Regions from separate parts of the Homo sapiens genome. Here region 1 is linked to region 2. Evidence: fine-mapped expression QTL. A gene starts in region 2. The other region holds a variant in brackets. All regions are shown on one strand. Distances are between the middles of the regions. Region 1 has its middle 57 kb from the start of TNIP3. Region 2 holds the start of TNIP3 (TNFAIP3 interacting protein 3).

Evidence for each region.
Region 1: its variant is fine-mapped to the expression of TNIP3 in whole blood (INTERVAL, PIP above 0.99).

The regions. Positions count from the first base shown.
Region 1 is chr4:121,218,652-121,223,058 of GRCh38, reverse strand. It overlaps a transcript of TNIP3 not described here. Among named protein-coding and RNA genes, the nearest start is that of TNIP3, 57 kb to the right of the region's middle. The variant T/A (reference allele first, on the strand shown) is at 2,198.
Region 2 is chr4:121,162,161-121,166,567 of GRCh38, reverse strand. TNIP3 (TNFAIP3 interacting protein 3) reads left to right here and starts at 2,247. Exons shown (of 11, transcript NM_024873.6): 1 at 2,247-2,508. The coding sequence starts at 2,443.

The DNA of each region.
Region 1 (4,407 bases), 56 kb before region 2:
CCGAGGCGGGCGGATCACGAGGTCAGGAGATCGAGACCATCCTGGCTAACACGGTGAAACCCTATCTCTACTAAAAATACTAAAAATTAGGCGGGCGTGGTGGTGGGCGCCTGTAGTCCCAGCTACTCGGGAGGCTGAGGCAGGAGAATAGCGTGAACCTGGGAGGCGGAGCTTGCAGTGAGCCAAGATCGCGCCACTGCACTCTAGCCTGGGTGACAGAGCGAGACTCCGTCTCAAAAAAAAAAAAAAAAAAACGCACAAAAAACACCCTCAGCTCCACATTTTCATGATTTTCAGCAGAACAACCAACAATTAATAACTAATAACATGTATAATAACATTTATGTCCCATAAAAATCGCTTTCTCTACAGGCTTTCCAGTGAGTTTTGAAGATTAAACAAAATTTAAATTCTCTCACATTTATTTGGAGCTTACTATCTGCCATGCAACACTAGAAAAGTCACCTTATAGTGCAATTGAGGTGAAAGTTGCTTGTAAATGCAGTGTCTTGTTTAATCATTATGGACTTTTCCTTGAAGAAGGGAAGTGTTATCCTTACTTTGTAGGTAAGGACAGTGGGGCTCAGAGTATTTAAATAATATGCCCAAAGACATATAGTCTGTTAAACGTGAGAGACAGATTTGAATACACATCTTTTGACTCTAAACCCAATCATCCTTCCAATACACGTTTGAAAAAGCGAATTTGTAATTTGGGGTGCTTTGATGAAATTTATCAGTAGAAATCCACAATACAGGAATATTCCCAAATAGAGCTGAATAAAGACTCAGAACAAGGATATGCTCATTTTTCTGCAGAATGAAGGAACATTCTATGGAAAACTAGGTCCTCTTCGCAGGGGAAGAAATTCACTAATATTTCACTAAGCCTCTAAGATGCATCAAGAGCAATATAGCAACATTGCAAAAATCCTAGGATGACCAGTTTTCATAACACTTAAGTATTAGGAGCACTCTTAGCTACTATAATGTACAATCTGTTCTCATTTTAGAGCTGGTGATCGACATTCAGGGACAAGCAAATGTAGTGATAGCCCTGGTGACAGACAGAATCTTAGTCTCCTGACTCCTGGTTCAGGAACTTTTTTAGATTCAGTCCTCAAATGTCAGTTTTGCATGAAGAAGAAATGCAGGTGTTCTGATGTGATTGAGCTGTAGAGAACCTGTGGTGGCAAAAAACTTTACTGCTATAAAACAAAAAGACTTCTTAGAAGGAAATAGGTGATGAAAGTCCCCTGATTTGACACCTTTCTCAGAAATATGAAGTGGAAAAAAAAATAGTTACAGCTCTGTTGGGTAGTTCTTTCTTTTGGTTTAGCCAAACGATGTGCAGCCAAAAATCTCTTTCTTGTTCTCAATTTCCCTTGAGCCATTACTGTAAATGAGAGTGGTGTGTAATTTTCCTCTCCTCCAATTTCTTCCACACTGTAATCAAAGGTCCTTAAGTACCTGTTGGGTATAGGAATCTTATTTGCTAGAGGAAATAAATGAATTAAAATGTGTAACATATCCTTTTTTTGAATATCATTATCATATTCTTAACAACATTGAGCATTTGCCTCATTTTGCATAGAAATTATCTGAAATCTTTTATTGCTGTTTTAGCTTTGTGCTTGTAAATTTAGGTTAGTTTTATAGTCACGTGATCTGCTTTACTGTTCCTGTTTCTAGGCTAAGTGAATTCCTTTTTCTTTTTTAATATTTATGGAGATAAAATGACTGATAGGGAACTTTAAGGATAAAACTTCTTGAACATACAAACTGGCTATTTTATATATTAAGAGTGATTTAGACTGAATATTAAAGATATTATTAGAAAAACATAACCAAGGTTTTATACTAAAAATGTTATAGTTCTTTACATTTCTTTCTTACCAATAATAGCAAGGATCTCAAAATGTTGTCCATTATCATCCACATATTGGCAACAAATATCTCAAGCTTTGGAAACTGCAAAAGGCCATGAGAATTGCTAACAGTAAACCAAAAATTTTTAAAGAGCATTATGTTTTATTTGTTCTCATTGATTTTTTTAAACAGAATTTTAATACCTTTGGGGAGGATATGTCTTCACTTACTCACCACAGCCCCTACCACCACTTGTCACCAATTTATGTCAGCTTCCTGACTCTGCAGGCATTTTCCCACTCTTGACTGAACGTATTGCTCTTTTTCA[T/A]CCCCTACTCAGCCAAATCACAGCAGGAACGAATCCTGCTGTCCATTCGCTCAGTAAAACACACAGACTGGCACTTAAGGCACGCTGAATGCTCACAGCTAAGGACATTCACTTATTTCTGACTCTAAAAGTTAAGTGGTACGTTTACCCAGGATCAGCTTTGTTTATTCCCCCACGCTATTTATGACAATTTTACTTTTTTGCCATTATATATTTAAATAAAATGTATATAAGCCGATGATACATGAGTACCAAAAGGTTAAAAAAAAACATTGTTTCAGTACAAGCTAGTTTTAGCATCTTGGAAACATCTAGTAAAGGTTAAGTTACCAAATTTGAATTGGATGATGGTGAGGGCAAATACAAAAAAAAAGTAGTTAATTATCATAAAAACCTAAAAGCATTCTGTTTTCAGATTGCTTTATGTCTTAAAATTTTTGCTCCCTTGTAAAGAAACCAAAACTAGAATTCACCAAGGATTTATTGTGGGCCAGAAGACACATGTGGACAACCACTAATAGATCTCTCCTTAGAAAACAGAGCCTAGCAATGATGTTCACCTATGTATTTTCAGTGACATTAAATTAATATGGTATTAATGTATTATTCTTCATGAGTCCCAGCTTTAACTAATATTTTGATTAACTGACTGCCTACCTGTAGGTCTCTTATGTGATCAATAAGAAAGCTTTTCATGTATTCTTAAATGGTATAATGTCATTTCTAAAAAATTAATATAAGTACTTTTATATCTGTAAGCATGTGAATGTACACATATGTATGGTTTTCAGCCTATTACTTTATAGAATCTTTATTATTTATTATATATGGATACAAGGATAGTAATTTTCATGATGGTTTAGTACCTGATGAGGACATTTTATCCTAAATGTATTGAACCTGGTTAACATTTAATGTTAATTTAGTAAAGATAGTGAAATGAAACAGTTTCCAGGAAGGTATTATGTGTTGTAAATTGTATGACCCAGAAAGAAACACATTTTATTTAAATAAATATGCCTTGTCAGCTTCTAGTCCTTTCTACCTTAAGTTTTCATGCATTTGATTGTATGTGAATTACATTTGGACACCTCTCAATGTATAACATAGACTTGAGCAACATAAATGTAAACAATAGTATAAGAATTCGTTGGTAATTTTTTATATAACATTTTCAAGGTCTGTAAAACCTATGTGAGTAAACTTTGAGTATGACTGGTAATACGAACACCCTGCCCTTGAATCTGACTTTAGAAATCCAAGTATATTAAAAGCTGTCACCAGAAATGTCCAAAAGCTCATAAAACTTGGTTAACTTCCAAAAGTAAGTTTATCCTTCAAAGTTGGGTTATTTTGGAACTATGGATTGTGTAAACTTCTGCTTAAACAATCAAACAGCTTATGATCTTCACTGATGTGCTGAAATGCATCCAAGAACAGAGGACATCTTTCGGCTAAGTGAAACAGAAAGCAACAGCTGCTTCTTTAGCAGTATAGGAATTCCTTAAAAAAGAGGAAAAGGAGGAGGAGGGAGGAAAAAGGAGAAGTAATCAAAAGATGGAAACAAAGACATGTGTTTGCTTTTAGCTTCAGAGGATGCTCAGCCAGTTGGATACTCTTACTTCTATGGGTTTTTTGTTTGTTTGTTTGTTTGTTTGTTTGTAATGGAGTTTCATTCTTGTTGCCCAGGCTGGAGAGCAATGGTGTGATCTCGGCTCACTGCAACCTCCGCCTCCTTGGTTCAAGTGATTCTCCTGCCTCAGCCTCCTGAGTAGCTGGGATTACAGGTGCACACCACCACACCCAGCTAATTTTTGTATTTTTAGTAGAGACACCATTTCTCCATTTTGGTCAGGCTGGTCTCGAACTCCTGACCTCAGGTGATCCACCTGCCTCGGCCTCCCAAAGTTCTAGGATTACAGGCGTGAGCCACCATGGCTGGCCACTTCTGTGGTTTTTAATTGTAAATCTTTTGGTTCTCAGAAATTTTATGTGGCTATAGCTAGGGAAAGTAGTGCACACCTGTAGTCCCAGCTACTCAAGAGGCTGAGGGAGGAGAATTGCTTGAGCCCAGGAGTCCCAGCTACTCAGGATCCTGAGGGAGGGGAATTGCTTGAGCCCAAGAGTTCAGAACTATAGTGCACTGTAATGGTGCCTGTGAACAGCCACTGAACTCTAGCTTGGGTAATATAGTGAGACATCGTCTCAAA
Region 2 (4,407 bases):
TGACTTCAGAAATGAAGACTCTTCACAACAGCCTTGGAAACATGGAATGACACCTCTGTTTCTCTGAAAGTGATTTCAGCTAGTGATACTTCTCATGAAACAAAGCTTGACTAAAAGCCAGACTCTTAAAATATGTGGCACAATGTGAGAGGGATGGAGGTGAAGTGAACAGAGCATATGTAACAGAAAAGACCCAATTAATTCTTAGGGATGGCATATTGAAAGTCTCATTTTTCTGAAACCAAACTTGTGGCTCTTCAGAAGAGTTATTACTTATTCATAAATAACCATATGGCTCTCTTGAGCTAATAGAAAATCTGTTTGTTGTTTATCTGCATAACAGAAGAGGCAAAGGAATTGTAAAGAAAGAAGCAAAGGTATAGAATTTCCATTTAATAGAAGCCATCACACCTAACAATGTATGTGCATCAGGATATTTTACAGGGGAGACTCAAGAGGCACAATGCCAAGGATGGTATTTCCTGGCAAGAAAATGTTCTTCCCACCCACTTTTCTAGGTCAATGTTACCACATCCCTATACAAATACAAAGTTAAAGCTGAAGAGAACCTTACACTATATAAAACTATGGAGTGTGTATGTGCATGGTATGTTTCAGAAGAAAAATATTCTTACAATAGAGTTTTCTTTTTCTTTTCTGATGAGCAGATTTTAGTGTTGATAAAGTGTCAGTTCAGGAAATCGCTGCTTCTGTACCCTAAAGTCAGATCTTATGTGAGTTATAACTTTTTACTTTCAGAACCCTGAATGAACAATTTGATTCCTACCTGTATTTTTGGATTTTGCCTTAAAGCAGCGTCACTCCCTTTCACTCAAGCGTAGACCCAAACATAACAAGAAACCAGAAGAAAGTAAACACACACACACACACACACACACACACACACAAACTAGCAAAAAGTTCATCGATTTTGTAAATCATTATATAGATATTCATTCATTTATTCATGTAGCAAAATGTGTTGAATGCCTGCTGTGTGCCAGACAGCTCAGTGCCTGGGTGCGTGGACACAGAGATTAACACAAGAACATGGAAATATGTAATCGTAATGCATGATGAAGTGCTCTCCTTAGCTGATTAGAGGAAGTCAAGAGAAGATCAGAAGGAAAGAGAGGCATTGACTTAGGTTTTCCCCGTCATAAGGTTGGATGGAGGGCCCAGAGAGGAGACATCTGAGGTGGCAAGAACAGCATGCACAGAGCTCAGGGGCGTAGAACCATCTCACTCATTTCAGGAAAGGGAGGTCAGTCAGGATGGTTGGAGCACAGGGGAGAGTTGGAGAGTAGGGGGAGATATTCAGGAGAAATGGGAGGGCCAAATGTGGGACACTCAATCACTCTCTTTTGAATTTTAGGAGTTTTAGGCTTTATCCTATATATATGTGAATATCTCGTAGGCAGGTTAATGAAGTTAAATGATTGACCATAAATTCTTTTCTCTTTTTAGTTACACATTCTTTCCTTTTTTGTATTCCTTGCCTCTTTCCTTTTGTTCCAAGTCCAAAATGAGGTCTTCTGTTCCATCGCAGTTCACTTATGCAGCTCCAAGTATCTGCCATTTCCACGCTTTTATCTGTACTACCCAGTAGTGCTCCATTACCTCAAGGCTCCTAAAATGATAACAGTCAAATAATTAAAGTGAAAATGATTCTCCATGAGAAGATTTCACTTCAAATGAGTCATGGAGACAATCTGGACTTGATTTATAGAAAAGACAGACTTAAACTTGAGACAAGTTTAACCTTTCTGCCAATATAGAAGATTAGATTTGCAAACAATGCCCATTTTCTTTACAATGAATTATTTTCCCTTTTATTTCTATAAGAATTAGTGGCACTTATATTATTATGTATTATGAATTATGTATGACTCATTAAGTTCTACCAAGCTACACTCACATTTAGAAGGTATTGCCAGAAAATCTCGCCTTTAGGGAAACCGAGCTGTCAAAAAGTCAACAGTTACCTAATTGCTCTGGGAAATACAATGAATTTATAACAGTTAGGCTACTGAGGAAACACTTGGATTGCCCAGGCTTTCTGTGGTGGAGAACTTCCTCCTCCAGTGGGAGAAACTGCCAGTAAAGGAAGAATGACGATTTACATACTATAGCAAGGCTAATCTGCCCCAGGTCTTAGTCACGGCCTGCCTATTTGAGACATCCTGGGAAATCCCTATTTGGAAGAGAAGAAAAGTTAAAATCCCAGTTGCAGTGCTTATAACTTTATTCTGTGTAATTCCTATCCACAGTCACTTCTGTTCATTTTTAATGAAAACCTATTGCTGTTATTTTCTATTATGAGTTAACGGTGATGTGTGTTTTTTAAATTTTGTATACTTGCTCTCACCCTAAAATATACCTTAAGAGACTTTTCCCCTGTTTTTCTTTCTGCTTTCCAAGACTCCAGGAAAAACAGCTTCCATGGCACATTTTGTACAGGGCACATCTAGAATGATTGCCGCAGAAAGTTCTACGGAGCATAAAGAGGTAAGAACATATTTCTAGGAGATGAGTTGATCACATCTAGCATTGATGGCATTTCTAGTGGTTAATTGTGCACTTATTAATAAGAACAGAAATGGCTAGTTTGCTTTCTTTAGCTAAGATTTGCTCTATATTTTTAACCAAAATTATGTAACATAGAAAAAAATATCTAAGTAACCAGTACATTGCTTTTAACCCACGGGGCTTAAATTCCTTTCAGCCTTCCAGTTCTGTGGGTTCCTTATTTTGTTCTTGATTTTTGTTCTATAAAAATCTTAAAAGAATACTATATTGGTGTAGGTAGAAATAGAACATATTGTAACAATAGAGTATCTGTAGTAATATTTTTATATATTTACAATTGGTACCATAGATTTTGTTCAGCAACAGAGACTACTGCTAATTGAATGAATGAATTCAAATATTTTCTAGTTTTCTTTTACAGATAACCAAGGTATAATGGGAAACTAAATGGAAACTTCTATTCATTTAAGTTTTTAATTTAGTAGCATCAGACCTTGAATATACATTGGTAAGGATGTTATCATAGAGAAAGAAGTGCCCAGATGCTTTGAACAGAAATTCTACTTTATAGGGAATAATTATAGGAAATTATGTATAGGGAATAACTGTTCCGTAAGCAGCCCTTGCTAGAATCAATGACTGAAAATCTTTGTAGTTACTGCAAATCAGATGCCTTCATTAGCAACTGTAAAGCAAAGTAAATACAAATTGAAAAGGTCCCCCAAACCTTTGTATTTGATTAATTTCGCTTTATTTTATAGAAACCTGAGACATATGAACTATAACAAAATGTTGATTAATCTCCAGAGAAAGCTTTGGTGATACATTTGTGACTTACATGCCATTCCTAGTCACTATGTTTTCTATTTTTCCTCCCTCCTATCCTCCCCCACCTATAACTGAATATTACTTATGAATTTCAAAAACTAGTACTCGTGCAGTTACAAATAGAGCCTCTTGCAGATTTGGTATCTAGATTTTCAGTAATTTTTATTTATTAAAGAAAAATCAAGGGTGAAATGTATTATAATTTTCTTCCAGAGAAAATTGTTTATGGGGAAACAAACAAAAAGCACACTGTCTCATTGTTCCACATCTGGGCTCCCAAAGGCAGGGACATACAAATGTTTGCCAATCACGGATTTTTGTCTACATCACAAACAGAGAGGAGACATTTTTGAGGACCCATAATTTATTCCCTAGAATGGGAATATATTGAACTTTAGTATGAATCAAAATTACCTAGGAAATGTATTAGAAATAGAGGTGCCCTGGCTGCTCTTCTAGAAATTCTGATCCATTGTTCAGGATGCTCTATGTTTAGCAAGCTTAACGGTGACTTTGATGTGCTCTTGTGGTGGGAACCACCATTCTAAAATCCAGTCTTACTGTGCCCCTACTTTGCTGATGACCTCAAGATACACTAAGTAGGGTTGGCTCACAGCATTTTCCAGATCAAAGATGCTTAATAGTTAGTCTGTTCTAACCCAGAATGGGTCCAGTTTCTTGGAAGTCTTCCCCAAAAGAAGAAGGTCCAATTACGGGCCCCAACATACTTGACACTTGGGTTTCAGTGTCACTCTTGGTGCTCAGCCAGAACACCTTCTTGAGGTCAAGAGCAAATATAATCATTCAGAATTTATTGACCCACAGAAGACTGTCTCTTTTTAAATGTGGTCTTAATTGTAACATAGGTCTAAATAGGAAGAAGCTAAGGAAACGAGAACATCTCTGCTTACTTAAAATACCATCAAACCCTAAAATGCTGAAACATAAACAAACAGAGAAAAGATAGAAAATACAGTTTTATAAATAATTTCTGATGAAAAAAGGTGCTTGAAATCCCATGATGATTGCAAAGAACAATTTCCTGTACAC